Linked DNA regions of Homo sapiens: regions 2 and 3 are each linked to region 1. Evidence: fine-mapped expression QTL. A gene starts in region 1. Each other region holds a variant in brackets. All regions are shown on one strand. Distances are from middle to middle. Region 1 holds the start of SLC15A4 (solute carrier family 15 member 4). Region 2 overlaps GLT1D1 (glycosyltransferase 1 domain containing 1). Region 3 holds the start of GLT1D1 (glycosyltransferase 1 domain containing 1).

The links. PIP is the estimated chance that this variant, and not a neighbour inherited with it, causes the effect. A credible set is the group of variants that fine-mapping cannot tell apart.
Region 2: its variant is the best candidate, but not a certain one, in a credible set for the expression of SLC15A4 in liver (GTEx, PIP 0.51).
Region 3: its variant is the best candidate, but not a certain one, in a credible set for the expression of SLC15A4 in whole blood (TOPMed, PIP 0.52).

Annotation. Positions count from the first base shown.
Region 1 is chr12:128,821,031-128,827,124 of GRCh38, forward strand. It overlaps SLC15A4 (solute carrier family 15 member 4), which reads right to left and starts at 2,928. Exons shown (of 8, transcript NM_145648.4): 1 at 2,368-2,928. The coding sequence starts at 2,913. LOC124903083 (a long non-coding RNA gene) reads left to right here and starts at 2,914. Exons shown (of 2, transcript XR_007063602.1): 1 at 2,914-4,860. RefSeq lists enhancers at 939-1,058, 1,119-1,198, 2,679-2,838.
Region 2 is chr12:128,902,307-128,908,400 of GRCh38, forward strand. The region is part of intron 4 of GLT1D1 (glycosyltransferase 1 domain containing 1); the gene reads left to right. Among named protein-coding and RNA genes, the nearest start is that of GLT1D1, 52 kb to the left of the region's middle. The variant T/C (reference allele first, on the strand shown) is at 2,607.
Region 3 is chr12:128,850,523-128,856,123 of GRCh38, forward strand. GLT1D1 (glycosyltransferase 1 domain containing 1) reads left to right here and starts at 2,956. Exons shown (of 12, transcript NM_001366886.1): 1 at 2,956-3,127. The coding sequence starts at 3,060. LOC100128276 (a long non-coding RNA gene) reads right to left here and starts at 2,573. Exons shown (of 3, transcript NR_148996.1): 1 at 2,554-2,573; 2 at 1,671-1,830. RefSeq lists silencers at 2,935-3,034, 3,225-3,424 and an enhancer at 3,286-3,937. The variant G/C (reference allele first, on the strand shown) is at 2,876.

The DNA of each region.
Region 1 (6,094 bases):
TCCTCTAGTGCATGTGATCTCTACACAGCTGGCTCCCATTCACAAGGCCCTCAGCAGTGCAGATGCTGGCGCCCTGCTTCTTGTACAGCCTGCAGAACCCTAAACCAAAGAAACATCTTTCCATTATAGATGACTGAGCCTCAGGTATTCCTACATAGGAACACAAACAGGGAGACAACCTGCCAGTACTTCCTGCCCATTCTACTTCCATAGCTGAACTCCATCCATCCACTTCACCCACCTCCACTGCCTCCACTCTAGTTAGGAGAGACTCCCACCTCATGTCCCTAATGTCACCACTTCCTACACAACCCATTCTCTACAAGCATCCGCACACTTCTGTGAAGGGGCAGGCAGTTCACATTTTGAGTTCTATGAGACATCTCGTCTCCATCACAGTTACTCAATTCTGCCACTGCTTAGTGAAAGCAGCCCCAGTGTAGTGGCTGTGTTGCAGAAACAGGTGGGGCTATGTTCCAATAACGCTTTATTTATGGAGATTGAAATTTGATTTTCATAAAATTTTCACTGGTCACAAATGATCCCGTTTCCGACCACTTAAAAATGTAAGAACTAGCTGGGCGCCGTGGCTCATGCCTGTAACCCCAGCACTTTGGGAGGCCGAGGCAGGCAGATCACAAGGTCAAGAGATCAAGACCATCCTGGCCAACACGGTGAAACCCCGTCTCTACTAGAAATACAAAAGTTAGCTGGGCACAGTGGCGTGCACGTGTAGTCTCAACTACTCAGGAGGCCGAGGCAGGAGAATCGCTTGAACTCAGGAGGTGAAGGTTGCAGTGAGCTGAGATCGCGCCACTGCACTCCAACCTGGCAACAGAGCGAGACTCCGCCTCAAAAAAAAAAAAAAAAAAGAAAGAAAGAAAATATTAAGAACCATTCTTAGCTTGTGAATCCTCAGAAAATAAGAAGCAGACCTGACCTGCTACCCCAGCTGTAGTGCCTGCTCTGCACAAATCACTCCCTGCTGGAACCCAGTAAAGCTCTCGACTGTATCCCCAACGCTTTAACACTCCTCACATGATCCGGCCCCAGCCTTCCACCTCACTTCCCACTTTTTTTTATATTTTCTGAAACGATCTGACTTTGCTATTGCTCTTAAAGGCGGCCTATTCTGCATATAATACTTGGTGGCCACGTCCTTGCCCCTCCTGAAGAGCTGCAGTGGTTCCTCCCTCACTTCTTGGCAGTTACAGTTGCAGGGGAGCAGCTTGATGCTAACTTGATTCAAACTCATTTTCATCTGAGCTTTCCGACCCAACCTAGCCCGTAACTCCTTTAAAGCCACGAAGACGCAATATGAGTGTTTTCCCACTTCTTTGTAAAGGAAGCTAAGGCAACAACGGGGGCTTCCCCTTCCCTCAGCTTCCTGGCCCAGGGCCCTGCACCTGCGAATCCCCATGTCTGGAAAGCTCCTCAAACAACTGCTCTTTCCTAGCCTTCTGGTCTGAACTTACAGGGCCTGAACATAGAAGGGTCCCGTTCATTTATTTTTTATTTATTTATTTATTTTTATTTGGAGACAGAGTCTCGCTCTGTCGCTCAGGCTGGAGGAGTGGAGTGGCGCGATCTCGGCTCATCGCACCTCTGCCTCCCGGGTGCAAGCGATTCTCCTGCCTCAGCCTCCCGACTAGCTGAGAGAACAGGTGCCCGCCACCACGCTCGGCTAATTTTTGTATTTTTAGCCAGGCTGGTCAGGCTGGTCTCGAACTCCTGACCTTAGGTGATCCACCCACCTCGGCCTCCCAAAGTGTTGGGATTACAGGCGTGAGCCACTGCGCTCAGCGTATTTTTTAAATTTTATTTATTTATTTTTTTGAGGTGGGGTCTCACTCTGTTACCCAAGCTAGAGTGCACTGGTGTGACCCTAGCTCACTGCAGCCTCCGAAACTCGTAGGCTCAAGGAATCCTCCTTTCTCTGCTAGGACTACAGGTGTGCGCCTCCACGGAGGGCAAATTTTTAAATTTTGGTAGAGATGAGGTCTCACTGTGTTGCCCAACCTGGTCTCAAAGTCCTGGGCTCAAGAGATCCTCCCGCCTCGGCCTCCCAAAGTGCTGGAATTACAGGCGTGAGCCACCGCGCCCGGCCTCTCTTTTCTTTAAAGCCACTGTGGCCATCACTGTGTGTGTAGACCTCACCCCGCCCCAGGCAAACCCCTTCCAGCACCCATCACACCGGTACCTCCAGTCTTGGCCCACCTGCTGGCGGGATTCCTCGGCACTAGACAGAAGCCCCCCGGGGCAAGGGGCTCCCTCCGCGGTCAGAGGCAGGGACTGGGGCAGGGGAAGAGGCTGGGGCTGGGCAGGGGCTGGACAGGGACAGGGACAGCGCGCGGGGGCGCGGCTCACCTGGTCGGCGCCGAAGGGCGTGATGTTGGCCTTGACGGTGGCCACGCCCAGGCCCACCAGCACCAGCCCCGCGAAGGTGGCCGGTGAGCAGCAGCGGGCGGCGGCGTCGGGACCAGGCGCCGTGCAGTTGAGCAGGCGCGCGGAACCGCAGAGCGCGGCTCGCGTGGCGGGCGCGGCCAGCAGCGGGAAGGCCAGCATGCCCAGCAGGTAGAGCGCCAGGCTCAGCAGGATGGCGCGCGCCCGGCCCAGCCGCGCGTCGGCCAGCCAGCCTCCGAACGGCGAGCCCAGGTAGGTGAGGCCCATGAAGAGCAGCAGCGCCTCGCTGGCCTGCGCGCCCTCCCAGCAGAACGGCGCCCCGTTCAGGAATAGCACCAGGTTGGACGTGATGCCGTAGAAAGCGGCGCGCTCCAGCAGCTCCGTCAGCAGCACGGCCCCGCACGCCGCGCGCCGGCCCGCGAACGCCCCAGCCGCCGCCGCGGCCGCCGCCGCCCGCCGCGCGCCCAGCAGCGGCGCCCGCTCGCCCGCACCGCCCCCAGAGCCCTCCATGCGACGCCGCCAGCTGCCTCGCCCCGCCGCCGGGTCACCTGTCCCAGAACCCAGGGCCGCCGCCCTTCTCGCGAGACTGCCGGGCCTGAGATGTCCCTATTGGGCGGGCTCGCCGCTGCTCAACGCCCCACTCGCCGGAACTTCCGGCCCCGCCCCGGGCACTAGGCGAGGAGGTGGCCGGTATTCTGGATCACTGCGTGTCTTGGGGAGCTTGGGATTCCGCAGCTTGGCGGCCGAGAGCCTTTGTTTGCCTTTTTGAGACAGGGTTTCCCTCTCTCGCCCAGGCTGGAGCGCAGTCATGCGGTTACGCCTCACTGCAGCCTCAGCTTCCCAGGATCAAGCGGCCCTCCCACCTCAGCCTCCCGGGTAGCTGGGACCGCAGGCGCTCGCCGCTGCCTGTGGCTAATTTTTAAACAGTTTTTTGAAATGGGGTCTCGCTTTGTTGCTCAGGTTGGTCTCGAACTCCTGGCATCAAGCGTTCCTCACGTCTCAGCCTCCCATAGTGTTGGAATTACGTGCATGAGCCACTGCAGGCAGTCGGACTAAGGGAGTTTAAACAAAGAAGCCGGAGCCTGGCCCTCTTCGGGCTTCGGTGGGGCCCAGTAGGCAGCCAAAACTCACACTGAGACGGCGGCTGCTCTCCAGGCGGGTTTGCTCAGGCTGCCCCCGTGCTCCCTGCCCTGGGCTTCAGTCCTGGAGAGGACCCGGTTTCTCAACCCGTGCATCGTTGGCACTTTGAGCGACGGGACTGTCCTGTGCGTTGCACGATGTTCAGCAGCAGCTTTGGCCTCTGCTATCCACTAGGGGCCAGTTCCACCCCCTAGCACCTCAGGTTAACAACCGAAAATGTCTTCTAGACTTTGCCGAAGGACTCCTGGGGGCAAATACGCCCCCATTGAGACTCACTGGCTTAGAACAAGGCAAGCTCCAGCCTGTTTCAGGCTTTCCCAGAGACTGCCCCTACACCATCTATGGTTGCATGGCTGGCTTCTCATCCTTCAACCTTCCACCGAAGTGTTGACTTCAGAGAAACATTTTTTTCACTAGCCTGTCCAAGGCCCGAGTATCCCATTCCATCATGTTACTCTTTTCTCCTTATTACCTGTTACATTTTTTAATTTATTCGTTTATCTCCCCAACCTGCATGTGTTAACAGGTGTAAGCTTCCTGATGGCAGGATTCTCTTGTGTTTTGTTCCTCACTGTGCCCCCTGCCTCTGGGACAGCGCCTGGCACATAGTGGAGTGAAAGAGTGCCGCCCAAAAATGGCCCTCAGCATGGCTTCAGAAATTGAGACCCCGGCCTGGGATGGTGGCTCACGTCTACAATCCCAGCACTTTGGGAGGCCGAGGCGGACGGATCACGAGGTCAAGAGATCGATACCATCCTGGCCAACATGGTGAAACCCCGTCTCTACTAAAAATACAAAAATTAGCTGGGCGTGGTGGCAGGCGCCTGTAGTCCCAGCTACTCAGGAGGCTGAGGCAGGAGAATCGCTTGAACCAGGGAGGCAGAGGTTGCAGTGAGCCGAGATTGTGCCACTGCATTCCGGCCTGGTGACAGAGTGAGACTTCGTCTCAAAAAAAAAAAAAAAGACAAAAAAAAAAGAAATTGAGACCCCGGCCTGGGATGATGGCTCACGCCTATAATCTCAGCACTTTGGGAGGCTGAGGCAAGAGGATTGCTTGAGCCCGGGAGGTAGAGGCTGCATTCAGCAGTGAGGGCATCACTGCACTCCAGCCTGGGTGACATAGTGAGACCCTGTCTCAAAAAAAAAAAAAAAAAAAGGCAAGAAAGAAAGGAATCGTGATCCACAGCTGCTGCAATGATTCAATTAGTGTAAGACCACCTCCTCTTCCTTCATCATTCCCTCCAGCTAAGATGAGGGTGGAGCCAGTAGCTGGGAAGTTGGCTTGCCAGTAGGTCATCTGGAGAAGTAATCCTGCCAGTAAGTCTTGAAGTTGCATGCATTCTCTTTTTAAAAAACTTTTTTAAATGTCCGACAGATAGACTGATGGTCAGCACAGTGCTGCCACACAGCAGGCAATATATATTTAATCAATGTCTAAGGAGAGAATAATTGAATGCCCGAATTGGACCTTTGCCACCTGTCTGTTGATGCTTGTCATTTCCAGCTGTCAGCTCAAATATCACTTTCCTAACCCTGCCACACTAGGTTAGCTCCCCGTTTTTATGGCCTTGGAACTCCCTATACTTTTTTCCCACAGCACCGGTTATAATTTATACTTATTTTGTGCAACTATTGAATGCCTGTCTTCAAAGCTGGGATGGCCGGGATCTTTGTTTTAACCACGATTGTAGTTCTAGAGGCTGGCACAGCACTTGCCAATGATAAATAGGTATTAGATTGAACTGGATGAGTGAATGACTGACCATTTGTTGAATGTAAATGATGCAAGTCACCTTATGTTCTCATATATGTGTGTGTATACACATATGTATATCTGTGTGTATATATGTATATATGTGTGTATATAAGTGTGTGTATATGTGTGCATGTATACATGTGTATATATATGTGTCTATACATGTTCAAGGGCATATATTAGTATTTTAACTTATTATTGGATACTAATATATGTCCTTGAACATGTACATATAGACACACACACACACATATGTGCCATTTTTTTTTTTTCTTTTTGAGATGGAGTTTCGCTCTTGTAACCCAGGCTGGAGTGCAGTGGCACAGTGGCTCATGCCTGTAATCTCAGCACTTTGGGAGGCCAAGGCAGGCAGATCACTTGAAGTCAGGAGTTAAAGACCAGCCGGGCCAACATGGTGAAACCCCATCTCTACTAAAATTACAAAAATTAGCCAGGCGGTAGTGTTGCGCACCTGTAATCCCAGCTACTCAAGAGGCTCAGGCAGGAGAATCGCTTGAGCCTGGGAGGTGGAGTTGCAGTGAGCCGAGATCACGCCACTGCACTCCAGCCTGGGTGATAGAGCGAAACTGTCTCAAAATAAAAAATAAAAAAGAAAGCAATAGAACTCAGACTTCAATGAAAGGCTTATATCTAATTATGAGTCCAGTGCTGCTTCCACTTTGCAGTTGGTAGAGGAGACAGAATCTTTGAGTATTTTTTCTAAGACTGATAGGTTTGACGCTCAGGCAAAGTCTAGAGTAAAATTAACATTAAACATGGAATGAAAGCAAAGCA
Region 2 (6,094 bases), 81 kb after region 1:
AACCCCGACTCTACTAAAAATACAAAATTAGCCAGGCATGGTGGTGCGTGCCTGTAATCCCAGCTACTTTCGGGAGGCTGAGGCAGGAGAATCGCTTGAACCCAGAAGGTGGAGGTTGCAGTGAGCCGAGATTGTACCATTGCACTCCAGCCAGGGCAAGAAGAGCAAAAATTCTGTCTCAAAAAAAAAAAAAAGAAAGAAAAAAAGAAAAGTTCCCTGATGCAGCTAAACTTTAAGAAATTGCCACTTGCTGAGTTTGGGTGCAGTGTCCAAGAACAATGCCTACAGTGATCGGAAAGGCCATTAAAATACTCTTTCTTTTCCTACTACCTGTCTGCAAGAGGCAGGATTTTCTTTATAGACCTCAACCAAAACAACATATTGCAACAAATTAAATGAAACAGCAAACGTGGGAACCCAACTGTGTTGGTTAAGACAGACATTAAAGAAATAATTGCCAGGCGCAGTGGCTCAACCTGTAATCCCAGCACTTTGGGAGGCTGAGGCGGGCAGATCACCTGAGGTCAAGAGTTCAAGACCAGCCTGGCCAACATGACGAAACCCTGTCTCTACTGAAAATGCAAAAAATTAGCCGGGCATGGTGGTGTGCACCTGTAGTCCCAGCTACTCAGGAGGCTGAGGCAAGAGAATTGCTTGAACCCAGGAGGCCGAGGTTGAAGTGAACAGAGATGGTGCCACTGCAAGACTCCGTCTCAAAAAAAAAAAAAAAGAAAGAAATATTTTACCTGTGGAAGCATGCTCCTTTTCCATGAATTCATTGCCCTTTTCTCTAACTTGTCAGCCTTCAATATCATCCTCCACCATAAATCCTTCCTTGACCCTCCAGAATTGGCATAGATGAGTTCCCTTCCTCTGTCAGTTACCTTTTGCTGCTTAACAAACCAGTTGCCTTAAACACGCAGGGTGGCCTCACTTCCATGCCTGGACCTTAGCTGGGATGGTGGGGACCCCTGAGGCCTGTCTCCATGGGGTCTGTCATCCTGTTTTAGGCTCGGCAGGAAGAGAGAACGGGCCTCAACTCACAAGCACATTCCAGGCCTCTGCCTGTGATAAGCTTGCCTCCTTCCCATTGACCAAAGCAACTCAGCGGGTGGAGATACGGTCCCCACCTCATAATGAGAGGATCTTTAATGCTGCCTTACAAGGGCACGGATGCAGGGAGGGGGAGAATTGATGGCCTCTGTAACCATCTGCCACACTTCATGCTTGTCTCTAATGAGTATAACATGTTTTACTTTCTTCCCCGTGCTTCTCAAGTGGTGAGCTTCTTGAGAAAGGGACATGAGGTAGTCACTCGTGCATCCCTGGAGAATAGTATATACTGTCTCAGGCCCGGTGAATATCCTTTAAATTGATTGATTAGGAACGACTCCTCCTTTAGAACCTTTTGGTTTTTTTAAATATTTTTATTTTTATTTTTTGAGATGGAATCTTGCTCTGTCACCCAAGGTGAAGTACAGTGGCGCAATCTCAGCTCACTGCAACCTCTGCCTCCCAAGTTCAAGCTATTCTCCTGCCTCAGCCTCCTGAGTAGCTGGGATTACAGGCTCCCGCCATCATGCCCAGCTAATTTTTGTATTTTTGGTAGAGACGGGGTTTCACCATGTTGGCCAGGCTGGTCTCGAACTCCTGACCATGTGATCCGCCCGCCTTGGCCTCCCAAAGTGCTGGGATACAGGCATGAGCCACTGTGCCCGGCCAGAACTTTTAATTAAAGAAATTTTCAGGCATGTGTAGAAGTAGCAAGAATAGTAGAGTGAGCCCTTTATGTGCCCATGACCCAGTTTATTGTTCCTCAATTCTTATTTACTCTACTTCCTCCTGAATACACACACACACCTACACTCACACACACACATACAATGTTTTCGAGAATAATTTCAAAAATTACCAATATCATGCCATTTCACCTATAATTATGTGCCATTTTACCTGCAAATGTACTTTGATAAAGACTTTTTTTAAAAAACATAAACACAGTGGTACAGGTAACTTTTGTATTGGCAGACCACAGTCAGTAAGGAAGAAATAAAGAGGGGTTTAAGAGCGTTCATACAACCTAACATTTTTATCAATACAGTTTGGAAGAAATCAAGGAATAGAATTTGGAGGGGGAAAAAGAGAGGAACTGAATCATTTGGTTCTGGATGTATTGACTTAGTGACAAATATTGGACTCGGGTAAATATCCAGAATAGAGCTGAGAATGTAGGACTGTCCTCAGAGGAGGGCACAGTTGGGGACACAGCCATGTGAGTCACTGGTGTCCAGGTGATGGTTAAAGCATGAAAACAGTCTTTTTTTTTTTTTTTTTTTTTTTTTTTTGAGACAGAGTCTTTCTCTGTTGCCCATGCTGGAGTGCAGTAGTGCGATCTCGGCTCACCGCAACCTGCGGCTCCCGGATTCAAGCGATTCTCCTGCCTCAGCTTCCCAAGTAGCTGGGATTACAGATGCCCACCACCACACCCAACTAATTTCTGTATTTTGAATAGAGATGGGGTTTCACCATGTTGGCCAGGCTGGTCTTGAACTCCCAACCTCAGGCGATCCACCTGCCTCGGCCTCCCAAAGTGCTGGGATTACAGG[T/C]GACTGCCACTATGCCTGGCTAATTTTTGTATTTTTAATAGAGACTGGGTTTCACCATGTTGGCCAGGCTGGTCTCGAACTCCTGACCTCAAGTGATCTGCCCACCTCATCCTCCCAAAAGGCTGGGATTACAGGCATGAGCCACCGCGCCTGGCCCATTTCCCACCCTAAACACTCAGCTGTCAGGTATTACACCACTTACGCCGTTTCCCAGAAGCTAAGGGTGCAGGTCATGCCTCTGTTTGGTCAAGGCCGAATTTCCTAGTACACACCCACTATATGTCATCAATATGAAAGTTACTAGTGACATCATATTTTACCTTTTTGTGTGTGAAGTCTTTGAAATCCTGTGTGTATTTTACACTCACAGCACATCTTAATTCAAACAGGGCCTTAGACGTGCCCTGGATCAGCCACGTGGCCACGTGTGGCGAGGGCTGTTGTGTGCTCAGGGCAGCTCTGTTTCAGGATTTCTGAAACTTACTCACACGATATCTGATCCTGGAGGACACATGAACGGACATGTGCCCAGTGAGGGTTAGTTTGTAACCGGTGAGTGAACTTCAGCCCCCAGGGCTGCTCTTGTGGAAATGTTGTCTTGGGAGCTGGGTTTATGATCGCCTACCTATCTCTGGCTGACCTTCACAAGTTAGTTTGATTGGATTTCAGTAAAGACGGTTTTATCTCTTTTAATTTGAAATGCCTTTGTTTATGCTCAAGTCATTATTTTTTAGTGTTGTTTATATCAGCCTTAATTTGACATTGTACCTACTTTGTAAAATATACAATCCTAGTGGGCTCCTCACCAGGTCAGCATGCTAGGCTGTTAATGCCTAGCACGCGTGATCAACGTAGGTTATGTTTTGGGATGGCATTACTATGTTGGTTTGTGATATTATAATATATCTTTTAAGTGTTTTTTTTTTTTCTTTATTAAAGGAGTCTCACTCTGTTGCCCAGGCTGGATGGAGTGCAGTGGCGTGATCGTGGCTCACTGCAGCCTCAAACTCGTGGGCTCAGACGATCCTCTCCCCCTCAGCCTCCTGGGTAGCTGGGACTACAGGCCCATGCCACCACACCTGGCTGAAATTTTGACTTTTTTTTTTTTGTGGAGATAAGGTCTCACTGCGTTGCCCAGGCTACTCTTGAACTCCTGGCCTCAAGTAGTTCTCCTGCATCAACCTCCTAAAATGCTAGAATTACAGGCGTGAGCGTCTGTGCTGGCCAGTTTCTGATATTATAATATTGATTTGACATTTTCAAGAATTTGATTCATTTCACATTTCTGATCCTGAAATATATGTTGTGGGAAGTTTGAAAATATTTTATGTAGGATTTTGATTTCTTGCTACAATATGTAATAGATATTCAGGATGCAAACTTGAGTACTTCTAGTTCTAGTCCACGTTTAGAGCGCTTTGTCTAAATTCATCAGAATTTCACCAGAAAATGTAAAAATTTCACCAAGAAGAAAAAAACACCCACGAACAAATTAAATGTGTATCTTAATGGACGCTTCTACCAGGAGAAGCAATGGTTATGGTTTAATATGTCTCCATTGGGCTCAAAACCCCTCATGCCTGTTTTCACACTCTTTTCCTAATAAGCATTCTTCTAAGAGGACATTATCTAAACTCAAATATTTATTTATGAGCTATATTTAAAAAATCCTGTTTGAGTAAATATTGCTTGAAGCAGTTATCAAATTCAAACAAAAAAAAGCACAGTGTCATTCATAATGGCCCATCAATATGCTTTGCAAAGGCTAAGTTTTCAGGTGTTATCTTTAGAGTGAGGTTTTTCTTTTTTTTTTTTTCTTTTTTTTTTCTGGAAACTTTGAGTCACCCCCTTCTGGGGCCTAATTTATCTACTTTGCCTTGGCACTTGTGAAAGAAAAGTAACTTCTTCAAGTTGCTGTGTTAGGCAAAACCTAAAGTGTAATTTTACTTTGTGTACATTTACTCATCAAAATTCTTTTGGAAATTAAAATATAGAAAGCAAGACAGATCTCATTGGCTGTCACAAGTGCAGTTCCTGTACAGGTGAGCTCCACAAGTCAGTGCAGATGTTAGCGCTGGCCTAATCGGAATGAGCTGCGTGTCTCCTTATCCCTAAAGTCTGCAGTAGAAGCATGCTGTCTTTTGAGCTACTTATTACTTCTCCCTCTTCCTGCATGGCCCCATTGCTTTATGTCTGATTACCTCGGAAAGTCATCTTGGCAGCAGCTGAAACTACACAGACCATACCTTTTATTAGAGTTCCCACCCTCCTGGAAACATAAAAATGCATTGAACACGTGGGTTTCACCTCTAGACTACCTCTTTTCTGTGCCAACCCTCTCACCTCTGCAGGAGAAGCTCCAGGGATTGATCATGTCCCAGGAAGCTAATCTTTTTTTTTTTTTTTTTTTTGAGACCGAGTCTCGCTTTGTTGCCCAGGCTGGAGCACAGTGGCGTGATCTCGGCTCACTGCAAGCTCTGCCTCCCGGGTTCACGCCATTCTCCTGCCTCAGCCTCCCGAGTAGCTGGGACTACAGGTGCCCGCCACCACACCCAGCTAATTTTTTGTATATTTAGTAGAGACGAGGTTTCACCGTGTTAGCCAGGCTGGTCTTGATCTCCTGATCTTGTGATCCACCCGCCTCAGCCTCCCAAAGTGCTGGGATTACAGGCGTAAGCCACCGTGCCCCGCCACTAATCATTTTTAATAGCTTCTATGAAGGTGAGCCCTCATTGGAGATTTCTGGATGGAACTGCAAATGTTCTTTATGTCTGTGTGGGTTTTTTTGTTTGTTTGTTTGCCCCCATGTGAGATCCCTGGGAATTGAGAAGTTTGAAAGGAACTCAGAAGTATGAAAAACGCATCCATTCCAGAGCATAGATCTTGAGTTTACTTTTTCCATGACCCGGGGCTCAAATGTGTGGTACCATCACAAGTATTGTTTGTAATTCATTAAATTGCCCAGGCAGAGCATGGTAGGGGAATCTTCTGAATAAAATGAACAATCATTCTGAGTTGTTTACTCCATACATTTAATTGTTTAAAAAAACAAAAATCTTCTCTGGAAATTTCCTGTTGATGTTCCTGTTTCTTGAGTCGCCCCAGTAGATGGGGTGCCACACTCTCATCCTTTTATTTTGTGAAGGGTCACGGGTTGTTCTTTTAAATTTATTTAACTATTTATTTTTTAGACGAGTCTTGTTCTGTCCCCCACGCTGGAGTGCAGTGGTGCGATCTCAGCTCACTGCAGCCTCCGAAAGTGCTGGGATTACAGGTGTGAGTCCCCGCGCCTGGCCGGATTGTGTTAACTTCATCTCTATTGCTGCTCCATATTGGACCTGACAGAATCCTACCCCAGTCTAGTTTCAACATTTCTTTCTCATCTCACCCACGTATTTTCTTTTACTTTCCTTCTTTCTTTCTTTCTTTCTTTCCCTTTCTTTCTTTCTTTTCTTTCTTTCTTTTCTTTCTCTTTCTTTCTCTCTCTC
Region 3 (5,601 bases), 29 kb after region 1:
CTTTCCTTCCTTCCTGCTGCCTGGAATGTTGATGTGATGGGTGGAGCTGTAGCAGTCCTACTCCTTATCAATTCCTTGATAAGGTGATCTTGAGACTAGAAGCTAAACACTAGCATGATGGAGTAGACAGAGGAAAGTCTGGGTTCCTGGTGATGGTACAGCCACTATATTAGGCTTGGGCCACCTTCTTCTGAACTTAATTTACGTAAAAATAAACTTCAAATTTTTTCTAAACACAAGAATACAGATCGAGGTTATCAAGGAATTGAAGTGAGCCTTCAAGCACTGTGTGAAATGGCACATTCAGATTTCATCTTAAGCAGGCAGCTGCTTCCCAGCTTCAGTCAGCCACAGGATGGTGGCTTCATTTAATCAGATCTCTCATTTTTTAACAGATATCAGAAATTCCAACTTCTATATGAAAGCTCCCAATTAAAAAATGGTGGCTTGGCCAGGTATAGTGGCTCACGCCTGTAATTCCAGTACTCTGGGAGGCTGAGGTGAGTTGACTGCTTGAGCCCAGGAGCTCAAGACCAGCCTGGACAACATAGTGAGACCCCACTTCTACAAAAAATACAAAAAATTAGCCCAGCATGGTGGTGCACATCTATGGTTCCAGCTACTTTTTTGGAAGGCTGAGATGGGAGGATCACTTGAGCCCAGGAGGTGGAAGCTGGAGTGATCCATAATCACACCACGGCACCCCCAGCCTGGATGACAGAGTGACACTGTCTCAAAACAAACAAAAAATAATAGCTCAGCTTTTATGAAAAACACGGTGTAGCCTAAATACATCTAAGGATGATATTGAGCCCACAAGGCTGCCAGTTCAACTCTCCTTAGGGAGGTTCCTTTCTGGGCTCATGCTGAAGTCGCCTTTGTAAAATCAGAAATGTATCTGTTCACATTTAGCTTTTAATATCCCATGGGCAAGGTGAAATAGGGGAAGATCATGGGCAAGTGCCCCCCTCTACTTCTGTATACCACACCAGACACTGCGTTTTATTGCCTCTTCTTGGTGTGTAGCAAATATATCAGGAGTCCACTCAAAACTTATTTATTTATTTAACACTGAGTCTTGCTTTACTGCCTAGGCTGGAGCGCAGTGGCATGATCGCGGCTCACTGCAACCTCCGCCTCCTGGGTTCAAATGATTCTCATGCCTCAGCCTCCCAAGTACCTAGGACTACAGGCTTGTACCACCATGCCCATCTATTTTTCTATTTTTGGTAGAGACGGGGTTTTGCCATGTTGGCCAGACTGGTCTTGAACTCCTGGCCTCAAGTGATCCACCCACCTCGGCCTCCCAAAGTGCTGGAATTATAGGAGTCAGCCGCCGTGCCCGGGGTCAAAACTCTTTTTCTAAAATGTCGTTAGAAGGGGGTTGTGACAGCTCTGTGCAACTTGTCCCCTTTCCTGTTTGCTTATGTAATTCTGTTGGAAAGTATTAAGTTGTTTAGCAGAATGATAATATTTTCAGATCGCTTTTGTCCTTTAAAAAGGATGTGGCCTGCCTGCCTGGTGCCTGGGAAGCTGAAATACCAGGAAGAAGAGCAAAATCCTGGGTGTTTTTTTGAGAGTGAGAGGAGGACAGGATTTTGATTGTTCTACAATGATATACAACTCTTCCCTACTCCATGCCACACTGAGAGGCAGAGTGGTGGACGTACCTGGGAGAAGCCTGCGGAGCCGAATGTGCCCTCCAGGATGGACTTTTATATCTTGATAAGCCTGGGGGTCACCATGCTGCGTAGGGAGGCCGGAGACCTGCCACTGACGGTGGTTATCCCATGTCATGGCTTTCTTCATTCCCACTTTACCTTTTTGAGGCTGGAAGGTATTTAGGGGATGACAGAAAATCAAGTTTGAAGGTCAATGGAAATATTGGGCACCCACTAGAATGTCCCACATCTGTAAATACATGTGCATCTTTGTAAACACTTAACAGCTGTTTTGGGGAGTGCTTGTTTAAATCCACAGATGGCATTTTGCCAGAGGCCTCCTTCAGTTCCCTATTTCTCTCACTCAAGGTATCCTAGTTTGGAGATCCAGACCAGGTGCAGCCCATGTACCCTGATGAACCCCAGGTTCCCCTCTCCAACATCTTTCTCACCCGACAGGTGCGGCCCTGAAATGGGTTTCTACTGTCTCCTCACACAGTCCCCATGTTCCCCTCCTCGGGTTAGTTTTAGGGTAGTCTAGCCTGGGAAGGAATTTGGGACTGATCATGCCACGTTCCCTGGAATGGGACTAGAAAGGAATCCTGGGCTTCGTGCGGACCAAGGCCCCACTCAGGTTGTCATGGAAAATGAGGCTGAGAGCCCCTCTCTGCAGCACCCTGTGGGACGGAACCCGAGGTCTCTGCTGGTCCCGGTGGGCACAGACCTGCAGCCAACCCGGTGTTCCGTGAAGCCCTGATTTCCCAATGAAGCCCATGGAAGCCATCACTGGTTTCCATGGGAGCGGACCATGGCCACCCCTGCTCCTGTTCCCTGTGGGAAAGGACCAAGGCCGCCCCTGGTCCTGGTCACTGTGGGAAGGGACTGTGGTCACCGCTGGTCCTGGTCCCCTTGGGAGGGACTGTGGTCACCGCTGGTCCTGGTCCCCGTGAGAATGGTCTGTGGTCACCGCTGCCTGTTCCCTGTGGAAGGGAACGTGGTCACTGCTGGTCCTAGTCCTCTTGGGAGGGACTGTGGTCACCGCTGGTCCTGGTCCCCGTGTGAGGGACTGTGGTCACCGATGGTCCTGGTCCCCGTGGAAGGGACTGTGGTCACCGCTGGTCCTGGTCCAGGTGGAAACAGACCGCGGCTACCCTGGTGATGGACCCCACGGGGCACACCCGCGCCACCCCGCACCCAGGGCTCGCGCCGCCCGA[G/C]GCCCCCGGTTCCTGTCCCCCTCCCCGCCTGGCGCCGGAACCTGCGAGCTGGGGCGCGGCCTCGGGGAGGGGCGGGCGGGACAGACCCAGCCGCCCCGGCTCCCCCGCCGTCCGCGTCTGCGCCGGCCCCGGGGCCTGGTCGGCGGCGGCGGGGCCGGTCGATGGCCCGGGCGGCGGCGGCGGCATGCGGCTCCTGTTCCTGGCGGTGCTGCGGCCACACACCGGCAACGCGGTCACGGCCCAGCGCGTTCGGTAGGTGCAGGGCGCCGGGGCCTACGAAGCCTGGGCCGGGGGCCGGGGGGCGGGGACGCGGGACCCGGGGACGCGGGGCGCTCAGCCAGGCCCCCTCCAGCCGCGCCGGGGCCGTCCCGAGCCGCGCGCACAAACGGATGGGCCGGTGCCGCCTGCCGGGCGCGCGGGGGTCGGTGCCTTCTGCGTGGCGCGCGTGTCCCCGGGTCTCCGTGCGGCCGGCGCATTGGCCTCGCGCTCTCCGGAGGGGACTGAGCAGGTGAACAGGCCCGGAGCCTGTCGTGGAGGGGCCCGGGAAGGCCTCGCTGCAGAAGCAGGATGGGAGCAGGATCCGCAGGGATGCGCAGCGGGGTCCGCGGAGCTCCCGGCGGGGGCGCGTTTCCAGGCCGGGGACCGCGGTGCCAGCCCTGCCCTCGCGGATCGGGTCTCGGCTGTGTGCCGGCGTCCGGGGTCCTGTCCCCGAAGTCCCTTTCCCACCTCCCCTCTGCCCTGTCTATTCTCGTCTTCCTGGCTGGTTAGCTCCTTCACACTCATCTTTTTCTGCCTTTGTCTTATTTGTTTACTTGTTGGTCTGTGTTCTGGTCGCTGGAACGCAAGCCCGGCGGGGGCCCGGGGAGGGGCCGCCGCGTTAATCCCGCCGCCTCCCACCCGCACAGCGGGCGCTCGGCCTGTATTAGCCGGATAAACATATTCCTTGAGGCGAAGCCTGGGAAGTGCCAGGATTAGAGCCTGCAGCTTAACAGAAGCCGTGTGTGTGTGTGTGTGTGTGTGTGTGTGTGTGTGTGTGTGTGTAAAAGCGGACTTGCTTCATGAAATTTCCCGATTTACTTCCCTTCTGTGGGCCTGTTTCCCCATCAATTTATTTTTTTGAAATGGAGTCTCGCTGTGTCACCCAGGCTGGAGTGCAGTGGCGCAATCTGGGCTCACTGCAACCTCCGCCTCCTGGATTCAAGCATTCTCCTGCCTCAGCCTCCCAAGTAGTTGGGATTACAGGTGTGCACCACCACGCCCGGCTGATTTTTGTATTTTTAATAGAGACAGGGTTTCACCATGTTGGCCAGGTTGGTCTCGAACTCCTGCCCTCAGGTGATCCGCCTGCCTCGGCCTCCCACAGTGCTGGGTTTACAGGTATGAGCCACTGTGCCCGGCCTCCTCATCATTAAAATGAGCAATTGAGACTCCACCAACACTTTCATGTCCCTTTCAGCTAATTTCTCCTAAAGATCATAAGCAGAAATGACCAAGAGAGGATCCATCAGTTTTCTGAAATTTGCTGGAAAATTTACACTCAGGTTTCATGGTGCAGGTTTCTATTAAATAGGTCAGTGATGCTCTGCTTGGGTTTAGCAGTGAGGAGCCCTTTGTGTTCCTGGCTCTGTTGGATGAACCAGCATCCCAGTATGGGAGAGGAATGAAGGAGGTGATTTCACATAGGGATTAGTGCTATTAAGAAAGCAAAACTAGGAGGCTGAGGCAGGAGAATCGCTTGAACCTGGGAGGCAGCTGTTGCAGTGAGCCAATTGATCTGGGATCACGCCACTGCACTCTAGCCTGGGTGACAGAGCCAGACTCCATCTAAAAAAAAAAAAAAAAAAAACAACAACAACAACAAAAAAAACAAAAAACCTAGGGCAGGCTTTCATGGCGGCTCAAGCCTGTAATCCCAGCACTTTGGGAGGCTGAGATGGGAGGATTGCTTGAGCCCAGGAGTTAAAGACCAGCATGGGCAACATGGTGAAACCCTCATCTCTACAAAAAAAAATTTAAAAATTAGCTGATGTGGTGTGTGCATGCCTGTGGTCCTAGCTACTCAGGAGGCTGAGGCAGGAGGATCAGTTGAGCCCAGGAGGTTGAGGCTGCAGCGAAGTGACATTGCACCACTGAACTCCAGCCTGGGTGGCAGATCAAAACTCTAAAAAATAAAACAAAACTGTTAACGGAAAGAGGTCCTGATCCAGAACCCGATAGAGGGTTCTTGGATCTTGCACAAGCAAGAATTCAGGGCGAGTCCTTAAAGTGAAAGCAAGTTTATTAAGAAAGTAAAAAAATAAAAGACTGGCTACTCCATAGACAGAGCAGCCCCAAGGGCTGCTGGTTGCCTTTTTTTTTTTTTTTTTTTTTTTTGAGACAAAGCTTCATTCTTTCGCCCAGGCTGGAGTGCAATGGCGGGGTCTCAGCTCACTGCAACCTCTGCCCCCCGGTTCCAGCGATTCTCCTGCCTTACCTTCCGGAGTAGCTGGGATTACAGGCGCCTGCCACCACACCCAGCTGATTTTTGTATTTTTAGTAGAGACAGGGTTTCACCATGTTGGCCAGGCTGGTCTCGAACTCCTGACCTCACGTGATCCTTTGGTCTTGGCCTCCCAAAGTGCTAGGATTACAGGCATGAGCAACTTCGCCTGGCCTTGGTTGTCCATTTTTATGGTTATTTCTTGATGATATGCTAAACAAGGAGTGGATTATTCACACCTCCCCTT